3 linked regions of the Homo sapiens genome follow. The protein of the gene in region 1 purifies or fractionates together with the protein of each later gene. This does not show direct contact. Each region holds a gene or a part of one and is shown in the gene's direction. Other genes may lie near its edges.

Region 1 (3,457 bases):
TGGGAGGAGGAGAGAGGGAAACACTGTGGTCAGGCTCTGGGGAGAGTTGACTACAGTGTAGCTCTTGGATTATTTATGAATATTGCCCTCAGATTTATTTTCACTCCGCTCCTTCCATTCATATTCCCAGAGACAACCAAGAGCCGACTGTAGAAAAAGACTTCCAGACACCTAGAATATATATCAATAGACACTGTTTAAAAGGGGTACAATCTTATCGAAAACTATGTAATAAACAGAATTGGATGCAGAACTCAGACATAAGAAAGCAAAAAAAAAGAGAGATGAGGCTATTTCTGAATTTAGTCATGACATCTCCATGGATGCAGGATGTTCATACAGATTTATGCCTTTTCCAAATTTGACTTGTTTGATATTGGAAATGCAATTTTACTGTTTTGAAGCCAAAGATGCTGAAATCAGCTTATATGTATAGATATTTAAAGCTTGGGTATCTTATATGTGGACTTACATTGCTAAACATTGTTAAAATAACTTAAAATGAATCAAAAACGTGTTTTTTTAAAAGAATCCCTGAGATACATACAAGTTTGAAAATTATTGAGAAAATAATTGCCTCTGCCAAAACCAAATGGTATGAAAAGGTAGTCTGAATCATTCAGCATATCTAAACATAATCTTGTTCTTCTCAAATATGCTTGGAATACATATTTGACAGGTTTGTTTCTGAGAAAATTTAGTGGAAATATTGTAGTCCAAATTTCCTATAGATTCCCCTACAGCCTTCATCATAATCATTTCTTTAGAGAGAAGTAAACAAGAGGACATTTGTGGCACTTTCTTCATTGTCCTTTATAGCATTTATTACTGAATAAATCACTATCCTCTGAGGAGGAAAGGAAAGTAAGCAGCAGAGGCCTATGAGTTGTCAGTCAGGACTGGGGAAAATCACAAACAGGAAGATAAAAAATGAACATATTTTATTAAATTCTCATAGGGTTACAGATTTTTTTCACACCACATTTGGAGACGTTTTTGGGGGAAAATATACCTTTAAAATTTTATCTGTAGTTAATTTGGATCTTCTTGGTCTACCCCACCCACAAAGGGTCAAATAAGAAAATAAATAAATTCAATCCAATCCTGAAATTTTAGTCTGATGCAGTAACTGAAACAGCCTAAAGGTAAATTTCCCAGTATCTCAGGTTTTTCCTCACCACGCTCTCTTCTCCAAGATGGCAGTTGAATGTAGGCAGAAAGAGCTGACTCTAGGACCACAGAGCAGTCAAGTGAAGGGTTTCTCACATCCCTTAGTCTTCCCTGGCATCTCTGGTCTCCATGGTAATGCCTGTCTGTCTGGTCGCTAGCTGCTTGCAGCTTAAGTTTTTGGTCTCGTCTCTCCCGGACTGGTGAAAGGCTGATGATGCCTCCCCAACTGGCTCATTTCAGTTCTCAATGGTGTCGAGGGCCTCCTTGATTCTCTGCCAGGCTGTCCTATCTGCTCCCTGGCTCTGGTGGTCTACTTCACAGACCCTCACCAGTGTGTGGTGTGTCTGAGTTCTTCCCTTATCCCCATACCTCACAGTAACAAAGAGTGACTTTGGAAAGTCAGATTCCAACCCTCCCTCTGCTTAGCCCACGGTGTAGATGCTAGGTTTCCTCTGATGTACCTGCCTCCCAAACTGGAGAGGGGAAACCATGAGGTGAATTGAATCTTTCTACTTCCCTTCTAAAATAAGGAGGTGGGATTCAATATTCCATGAGGTTCATCTACCTCTGACATCCTGTGATTCTATCCCCACTTCTCTGCTTCCTCTGAGACACCCTCAGGCCCACCTCTGAATAACAGTGAGCTCCTCCAATTCTAAGAGGCCTTGACATATCTGACTTTGCTCCTCATCATCCCCATGTCAAAGAACCCCTAGAGATAAAGTCAGCCTGGAGGTTAAATCTGCAAATAAAGGGTGTCCTATGAAACCAGTAATCAATACCCTTATATTCATTTCTATCATGCTGGAGCTGGACTGTTTCTGGGATCTTAAATGTGGGGTTGGCCAGTGGTACGGTGTGAATGTTTGTGTTCTCCCAAAATTCATATATTGAAATCTCAACTTCCAAGGTGATGGCCTTAAAAGTAGGGCCTCTGGGAGTTGATTGGGTCATGAGGGTGGAGCCCTCATGAATGGGATTAGTGCCCTTATAAAAGTTGCCCCTCCACCAAGTGAGGACACATAGAAGGCATCATTCATGAGGAACAGGCCCTCACCAGAGAGCAAATCTGCTGGCCTCTTGGTCTTGGACTTCCCAGACTCCAAAACTGTGAGCAATACATTTCTGTTGTTTATAAATTACCCAGTCTAAGGTATTTTATTATAGCTGAGACTAAGTCAGGGGTCACCATCTGGTGGAGACCTTGCATCCTAGTTAATTCATATATCCTTAGAGGCAAGCCCAGAATTTCTCTTTCCTTTGCCAATTCAATAGCAAGACAAGATCTCTATGCCATTCAGAAAAGCCAGTTTGTTCCTTGTAGAAGATCTAGTAACAGGAATTTTTACTCTGGTAGGTAATAGGTACATTTACTCCATCTTGAGCTCTCTGCGTCTAATACACATTATTCAGAATGCGATGGCATGCAGACCTGTATTCCTCCTCCCTTCAGCACTCCTTCCTCTGGACTGGCCTATGCCACCTCCTGTTCCACTGAACTGATTATTAAAAAAGGAAGAGATCACGTATGTAGAAAATAATCATGTTCACTGGAAGGAATGACATATTTGTTAGCAAACGATTTACATTTCAAGGCTTTCACCTCTAACTTTGAAAATGAAGCTCGCAAGATGCTTAAAGATTATGTCTGTGAAGCGGATCCCAAAAAAATATTGTGCAAGAGAATGAAGATCTGTTTACTTTAGGTTTATGTCAGTTTACCAAATAGCTCCAGTCCAAAGAGTTATTTATACACTCATCCATTTATTAAATCTTTAAAAATACTTAAAAATCTTATGAGGCAGTAGAATTTGAAGGTTTGTAGTTTGAATAATCAATAAAAGATGATGTTTAGGGTTGAAAGCCGCTATGTTAGTTTGTTGCCATGACTTGGTGGCTTGAACAACAGAAATTTGTTGTCTCTCAGTTCTGGAGGACAGTTCTGGGAACAAGCTGTCAGCAGGATTGCTTTCTTCTGAGGCATTTCTCCTTGGCTTAAAAATGGCCAGCTTCTCAAACTGTGTTCCTCTGTGCCTACATGTCTGGTGGCTCTCTCTTTATATCCTAACTCCTCTTCTTATAAAGACACCCTACTAACTTCATTTTAACTTATCTTTTTAACGGTCGTATGTTCAAATACAATCACATTCTCCAGTTCTGGGGTTAAGGCTTTGGCATGAACTTTAGGGGGAACAATTCAGCCCATACCAGCACCCCATGGGAGAGGGCAACAGAACAAAGCATTAGGGGTGCAGAGGGTTGTTTTTGTTCATTTGTTTGTTTTTTA
Region 2 (3,652 bases), about 28 Mb from region 1:
AATGAAGTCTGATTACCTTAATGGAATCAATGTCTGATTTAAAACAAACAAGTGATTAACCCATAAACAGCACCAGAATTAGTAAGTTTGTACTTTGTTTTTCTCTGATGAGGATGTTCATTGGCAAAAGGCAATTATAAACCAAACTTTCTTATGTCTTTCAGGAACAGAGATACTTACAAATCATTATCACAAGAATATAGTCAGTATCAAATATACCAATTACATTGTTATATGTTATCCTTCAGAGAAAACAGGATGCCACTTGATAACAACATTGCATTAATATCTGTCTTTGAGATTCTGCTGAACCCCCTGCAGGTTAGCTTTTGGAATAGAAAACTGGCAGTAGTGCAGGTCAAGTGCTTTCCTAATCTGATTTCTCTGATTAGGGCACTCTCTGATGGGGCTAGCAGTGACCTATCTTCAACATGGCGCTCCTTGAAAAAACAATATAACTAAAGTGATGTAACAAATTTACAAAAATTTAAAATAAATGAAGGAATGGTGTGTGTTTGTGTGTGTGTGTGTGTGTGTCTGTCTGTCTGTCTGTCTTTTGGAATCAAGTTTCAAAGTATAAAGCTATTGTTACTGATTGTCTGCCTGTTCGGCAAATAGCTCTACTTATCGAAAGAGGGAACAATTTGAGATAGTGCTTGCTGAATAGTTGATGTTTCACATTTTTAAACGCTCCTACCGACTTTACTTGGGGACAGTGCCCTAAAATTGTTCAGATTTGAATTTGCTCTGCTGAATTAAAGTGAAAGATCAATTGTCTTGATGACTCTATAGAAACAACTCAGGAAATATTATTGCCAGTTATTAAAAGCAGTATTTTTACATAATAAAAGTATTATTCTGCCTGTAATGTGCAACAGCTGCATCATATGCATTTTTAGATTTCCAGTGTATTTTATTTGACGAGATTTAGAGAGCTGAGTTTTATTAGCCTCTGGTCTCATTTTATTAAAATAAAAATTGCTTTTTCTTCCAAAAACATTTTTAAATTTGACCTTTGCTTTTAAATAATTATAGTAGATTATGTGCAATAATATAAACATCTCAATAACTTTCTGAAGTATACATTAAAAATGCACTATCTGGAAATACATGTTTATTCATAGTAAAAGAATGCAAAGAGGAATGATAATGAATAGCTTCTGTTGTCCATTTGCTAAACTAGTCTGTTAGTCCCCTGACATAGACTCTTTTAGTCTTCTATGCTAAATTTCTTATAATTCTTAAATGACTAATATAGAAATTAGGGTGCTGGTCTGGCTGGATTTTCATATGCAATCTGACAATGTATAACAAAGTACAAGTTTAACCTGAATATCCTTGAATAGAAATCCAAGTTCAACATATATTCAGTATACAATCAATCCTTGTCCTGCTGTCACCTGGGCAGAGAGTGGACAGTGGCACAGCATTAAGTCAGCTGCGGCTCAGGGAAGTGTTGGTGGACAGAGAATGCCCTAGGCCCTAGTTTCTGACAGCTTGTTGATAAGATTTGGAATGCACAGATAGTTCTTGTTGTCTGCAGGTTGCTGCTTTGTGCTGGGAGGGGTTGGGGATTAGAGGTGCTACTTGAGGGCACTTCATCAGGCAAGAGCCATCGACCTGGCAGAGCAGCTAAACATGGCATTCAAACCAACATGTTCAGAGGCATAATTATTTTAAGTTGAAATGGTATAATCTATATTGTATTGTTTCTTCTCAATGAATCACATTAGGTATTACATATTCTGTTTTTTCATATTTTTGTTAGTAAAAATGTATAGCTAAATGCAAAGAGTTTGTTTCCCAAGCAATTTTTGAGGTCAACAGAAGAGTTCCCTAAGAAAGGCCTTCTTAACATTGACAGTATTGACTTTTGGGGCTGGATAATTCTTTGTTGCGAGGGGCTGTCTTGTATGTTGTAGGACACTTAGCAGCATCCCTGGCGTCCATCCATTGAATATAATAGTTCCCCTCCAGCTGTGACAACCAAAAATGTCTTTAGACATTGCCAGGTGTCTCCTGAGAGGCAAAATAACTCAGTTGAAAACCACTGCCCTAAGAAAAAGGGAATACTTGAAATTCATTTTATTTTTCTAAATATAGAATCAGGGCCAGAGTGAATAGAGGATATATTTTATCTTTTAACAAATTTCTTTTGTACTATAAGAATTACATTTGTAATATATACCTTATATTGCAAAAAGTTTTACTACAGAGCTCTCTTGAATACTACATATATTCAGATATCATGTAACTTCTTATTCCTGTCAGATGGCAGAATTAGTTATTAATACATTCTAATGTCTCTTTTATTCTAAAGAGTCTTCTATAATTCTGTTCATTACTGCTGAGTAAAGAAAATAAATTGTTAAATATTACCTTAAAGAACAGCATCCGTTTTGCCTACAAGCTTTTGTGTTTCAGAAACAAACATTATTAAACGAAGCATTAAACTTCAAGAATTAGAATTGAGACTCTATTAGGAAGTTAAAAATGTACTATGAATAAGGTATGAAATTGTGTTCTGTTATACTTTAAATACTAGAAAAACAAATTGTTAGATTTCAGGTAAATTAATGCTATTCAAGAACAAATATATTTTATGATATGCAAGTTTGCATATCAACAAATAGAAACAATCCTTATATATCCACGAAAGCATTTCTGGAAGAAATTCTGTCTTGTAGCAGTTTATTCAGTGCTGCCATATGTATTTCCTTGACCAATCATGTAGCATTTCTTTAGTAGCAGTTCTACTTCAAACTTCACATTTCAGACTTGTTTTCCCCTAATAAGGTGTGATAGGCTAGTGGAACACTTATAATTTCCCCCAGGAAAATCACCATCAAGTAAATATACCAAACACTTTATCTTATGTGCTCAAAAGGCAAGGTGTCATCATCACCTTTCACATACCCCATGAGATTTATTTACAGCTTACATTGACTGTGAAACTCTTTTATCCCCTGGGAGTTCTACTTTATTTATTCCAGATAATAGGACACTTGCAACCTATTAACAGTTGTAAACAGGTCTTTCAAGTACATCTGACATAGCAATTACAAAATGTATTTGTTAGACAAATATCTAGAATTAAATCAGGACAAAGATGAAGATTAGATGACCACAAGAAGTTTCTGCATAGTTTATCTATTTTTCAAAAAAAAAATACAAGTATTATAGACCCTCAGCTACAAAATTCCAGTGAATAATTTAATGGATATTTTACTTATTATATTTTAGAAAAACATTGATTTGATGAATGTTTATTTAATAAAACAGCCTTACCCTAAATGATAGTAAATGAACACAGGATTAAAGGGAAGGAGGGAAGGCCTAAGGAAGAATGGATAGATGGATGGAGGACAAATGTATAATTAAGAATATCAACTTTGAGCTGAGACCTGCATGTTAAATTTTGCTTTTATTTTATTTTTCAGCCAATGTTTTCAGTTGCACCAAGCTTAGCCACCAATGCATCAGCAGCCGCCTTTAATCCCTATCTGGGACCTGTTTCTCCAAGCCTGGTCCCGGCAGAGATCTTGCCGACTGCACCAATGTTGGTTACAGGGAATCCGGGTGTCCCTGTACCTGCAGCTGCTGCAGCTGCTGCACAGAAATTAATGCGAACAGACAGACTTGAGGTAGGAAT
Region 3 (3,652 bases), on another chromosome or scaffold:
AGGGTGGGTGTCACTGTCTACACTGCCTGGGGCCCGGCCTCTGCACCTGCCCGCCCGACACTCACCTGTGTGGCCTTGGGAGCAGAGGGTGGTGACAGGGCATCATCTAGTCAAGCCCCTGAGTGTTGCCATGGTTGTCAGCTGATAGGACTGAGCAGAAAGGACCCTGGAGACAGGCAGCGCTGGGTGGGGCTGGCACGGAGGCCTCACTCTTGGGCCTGATGTGGGCAAGAGGGGCCTGGGTTGGGCTCTGAGTGCTGGCAGATTCTTGGGAGCTCATGCTAGAGTTCAGGAATGTCTCGTAGGTTTCTACATTTAATTTAGCTTCTTCGGGAGTTTTTATGTAGATGCTCAGGTCATCTGTGGGTAAGTAACGATTTTTTGTTTCTTGCCCGTGTTCTCTCACGTGCTGTGCCGTCAGCTGTGTGGGCAGATGCCATTCCCTGCTCTTAGTTTTGGGGGCAGGAGCTGGTCTCGTACCATCGCATGTGGGGTCAGGCGCCCTTGGTCAGCTTGGGCAAGTGCCCTCTGTTCCTAGTTTTGGATTCCGTCAAGGGGAACGGCCTTGCAGTTCAGCCCACGGCCCTTGTCCCGGCGCCCATGCCCTTTGTGCTCTCTGGGGCTGGGGGCCGGCGCTGTGCACATGCTCGTGAGGGGCATGGGTGGGGCTGGCGCTGTGCAAGCGCTTGTCAGGGGCATGGGCGGGGGGTGCCGGCGCTGTGCGAGCGCTCGTGAGAGGCATGGGGGGGCTGGCGCTGTGCACGTGCTCGTGAGGGGCACGGGCAGGGGGTGCCGGCGCTGTGCGAGCGCTCGTGAGGGGCATGGGGGGGCTGGCGCTGTGCACGTGCTCGTGAGGGGCACAGGGGGGCCGGCACTGTGCGATCGCTCGTGAGGGGCATGGGGGTGGTGGGCCGGTGCTGTCTGAGTGCTCGTGAGGGGCACTGGTCTGTTTTCTGTTGTGCCTTTTTGGTCTTGGTGCTGGGTAGCGCCAGCCCCACGGGGTGCGGGAAGTATTTGGGAAGTAGCCCCTCCGCCCTCCGTTGTCTAGAATTGGGGTTATTTCTTCCTTAAGTTTTGGGAGAATTTTCCAGTAAAGCCACCTGGGCCTGGAGTTCCCTCTGTTGGAGGCAGTTTAGGGTGTGAGTGGGGGTGAGGTGGCATTTTTAGGATGGCCCCAGGGCTATATCACTCCTGGACTCTGTGTCTCCCGGCCAGGTGGGTGGGCCCTGGAAGGAAATGGGCCCAGAGGGCAGAATTGAGCATCCTGGTTCCACCCGCAGTGAAAGCTTCTAGTCCACAGAACCTCCTTTCTTCCCGAAGCACATACACCTCACGCCCCCACGAGTCTGTCTCTAACCTGGTGTCACTTGTGCAGCACGAGGAGCTCATGGGGGCCTGTTACTGTTCTTTTGTCTTTCTCAGTTGAACTGCTGGCTTATAAAGTAGAGCAGGAGAAGTGCATTGCTGGTGACTTGCAGAAGACGCTGAGTGAAGAGCAAGAGAAGGCAAACAGCGTGCAGAAGCTCCTGGCGGCGGAGCAGACTGTAGTGCGAGATTTGAAGTCCGACCTCTGTGAGAGCAGGCAGAAGAGCGAACAGCTGTCCCGGTCCCTCTGCGAGGTGCAGCAGGAGGTCCTCCAGCTGAGGTGCGCCTGATCCCCCTTCCTGGGACACTGGCGGGAGTCCCCCCGTTGTGCCATGTTTTCTTGGTGATGAAGGGAGACAGAACCTCTGGTGGGCCGCAGTTGGGCAGCCCCAGGGGCACCGCGCCCTGCTGTCCCTGGGTTGATAATCCTGTGGTGGGGGGTGAAGCACACGTGTGGGACCTGGCAGGGCTCTGCCTCCCCTCCTGGAGCTCCCAGCCCCCGGGAACACACTCTGGCCCACGTGGTCAGATTGTTCTGCGATGTCTCCACGCAGATCCATGCTGAGCAGTAAGGAGAACGAGCTGAAGGCCGCGCTTCAGGAGCTGGAGAGTGAGCAGGGGAAGGGGCGTGCCCTGCAGAGCCAGCTGGAGGAGGAGCAGCTGCGGCACCTGCAGAGGGAGAGCCAGAGTGCCAAGGCCCTGGAGGTAACAGGGTGTCAGGGCAAGGCAGCCGGCATGGGCTGTGTGCACTGGAAGCCTGAAGCCATGCTCCTCTTTCATCCTTCTTTTCCTGTTCTTCATGGCAGTGCACCCAGTTGACAGCAGTGTGACGTAGCAGGATAGGGCTGTGTTTGCAGGTAAAATTGCACCTTGGTGTAGTGGCAGCCACCACAGGGCGAAGAGTGCGATGACCCGTGGTGGCACGATACCCCTGCTCGGAGCCCCCCCCCGTCCCTGAGCACTTGCTGTGGAGATGGACACAGCCTCCTCGCTGGCATCCAGACAGAGCACAGCCTCAGAGGTCTGTGCACAAGGCAGGCTGGTGGTGGGGCCTCTGCTTTGCATGGCGGAGGCCCAGCAGGCCTGCTGTGGCTTCTGAGCAAGTCTGTGCCAGTTCCATGGGTTATGGCTTTCAACAGCATGGAAGTGGTGGTTCCTAGCAAGCTGGGTGTGTATCTCTGAGCCTCTGGTGGAGTGATTTTCTGAAGAGGGGGCAGGAGCCTCTGGTGGAGTGATTTTCTGAAGAGGGGGCAGGAGCCTCTGGTGGAGTGATTTTCTGGAGAGGGGGCGGGCAGGGGACATCTCTGAATCATTTTCTGGAGAGGGACAGACTGGGAACATCTCTGAACCCAGGACTCAACACCATTTCCGAAAAAAGTATGTCATCTCCGCAGTCTGGGTTTTTTGTTACTTGATGAACTAACAAAAAAATGTTGTCCCTACATGTGGCTAATAGGGTGCATTTCAAAAGGTAGAATTGCTGGGCTAAAGTATATAAACAAATGTGGACAGGAAAACCATGTAGACACTTTTCCTCTTGATTCAGTGTCTCCCATCGTATGTGTTTGCTGTCTAGGAGCTGCGGGCGTCTTTGGAGACACAGCGTGCTCAGAGCAGTCGACTCTGCGTGGCACTGAAACACGAGCAGACGGCCAAGGACAACCTGCAGAAGGAGCTGCGTATCGAGCACTCACGCTGCGAGGCCTTGCTGGCTCAGGAGCGGAGCCAGCTCTCTGAGCTCCAGAAGGACCTTGCGGCTGAGAAGAGCCGCACCCTGGAGCTGTCAGAGGCCTTGCGGCACGAGCGGCTCCTGACCGAGCAGCTGAGCCAGAGGACACAGGAGGCTTGCGTGCACCAGGACACACAGGCCCATCACGCTCTGCTGCAGAAGCTGAAGGAGGAGAAGTCCCGGGTGGTGGACTTGCAAGCGATGCTTGAAAAGGTGCAGCAGCAAGCCCTGCATTCTCAGCAGCAGCTTGAGGCTGAGGCTCAGAAGCACTGTGAGGCGCTCAGGAGAGAGAAGGAGGTAAGTGCCACACTGAAGTCGACGGTGGAAGCCCTGCACACCCAAAAACGAGAGCTGAGATGCTCTCTGGAGAGAGAGAGGGAGAAACCAGCGTGGTTGCAGGCAGAATTAGAGCAGTCACACCCACGGTTGAAAGAGCAAGAAGGACGCAAGGCTGCGAGGAGGAGCGCGGAGGCCAGGCAGAGCCCAGCGGCTGCGGAGCAGTGGAGGAAGTGGCAGAGAGACAAGGAGAAGCTGGTGAGAGCCGCCTGCCGGCGGAGC

What was found.
Region 2: the proteins of ROPN1 (region 1) and MBNL1 purify together in Homo sapiens (affinity purification with mass spectrometry; 2 studies listed by BioGRID and IntAct, with this or other methods). This does not show direct contact.
Region 3: the proteins of ROPN1 (region 1) and PCNT purify together in Homo sapiens (affinity purification with mass spectrometry; one large-scale study listed by BioGRID and IntAct). This does not show direct contact.

The regions. Positions count from the first base shown.
Region 1 is NC_000003.12:123,971,741-123,975,197, reverse strand, and holds part of ROPN1 (ropporin-1A), read left to right. Parts: intron 1-3,457. UniProt on the Homo sapiens protein: Important for male fertility. With ROPN1L, involved in fibrous sheath integrity and sperm motility, plays a role in PKA-dependent signaling processes required for spermatozoa capacitation.
Region 2 is NC_000003.12:152,429,277-152,432,928, forward strand, and holds part of MBNL1 (muscleblind-like protein 1), read left to right. Parts: intron 1-3,440; coding exon 3,441-3,644; intron 3,645-3,652. UniProt on the Homo sapiens protein: Mediates pre-mRNA alternative splicing regulation. Acts either as activator or repressor of splicing on specific pre-mRNA targets. Inhibits cardiac troponin-T (TNNT2) pre-mRNA exon inclusion but induces insulin receptor (IR) pre-mRNA exon inclusion in muscle.
Region 3 is NC_000021.9:46,428,588-46,432,239, forward strand, and holds part of PCNT (pericentrin), read left to right. Parts: coding exon 1-3; intron 4-1,422; coding exon 1,423-1,645; intron 1,646-1,919; coding exon 1,920-2,070; intron 2,071-2,941; coding exon 2,942-3,628; intron 3,629-3,652. UniProt on the Homo sapiens protein: Integral component of the filamentous matrix of the centrosome involved in the initial establishment of organized microtubule arrays in both mitosis and meiosis. Plays a role, together with DISC1, in the microtubule network formation.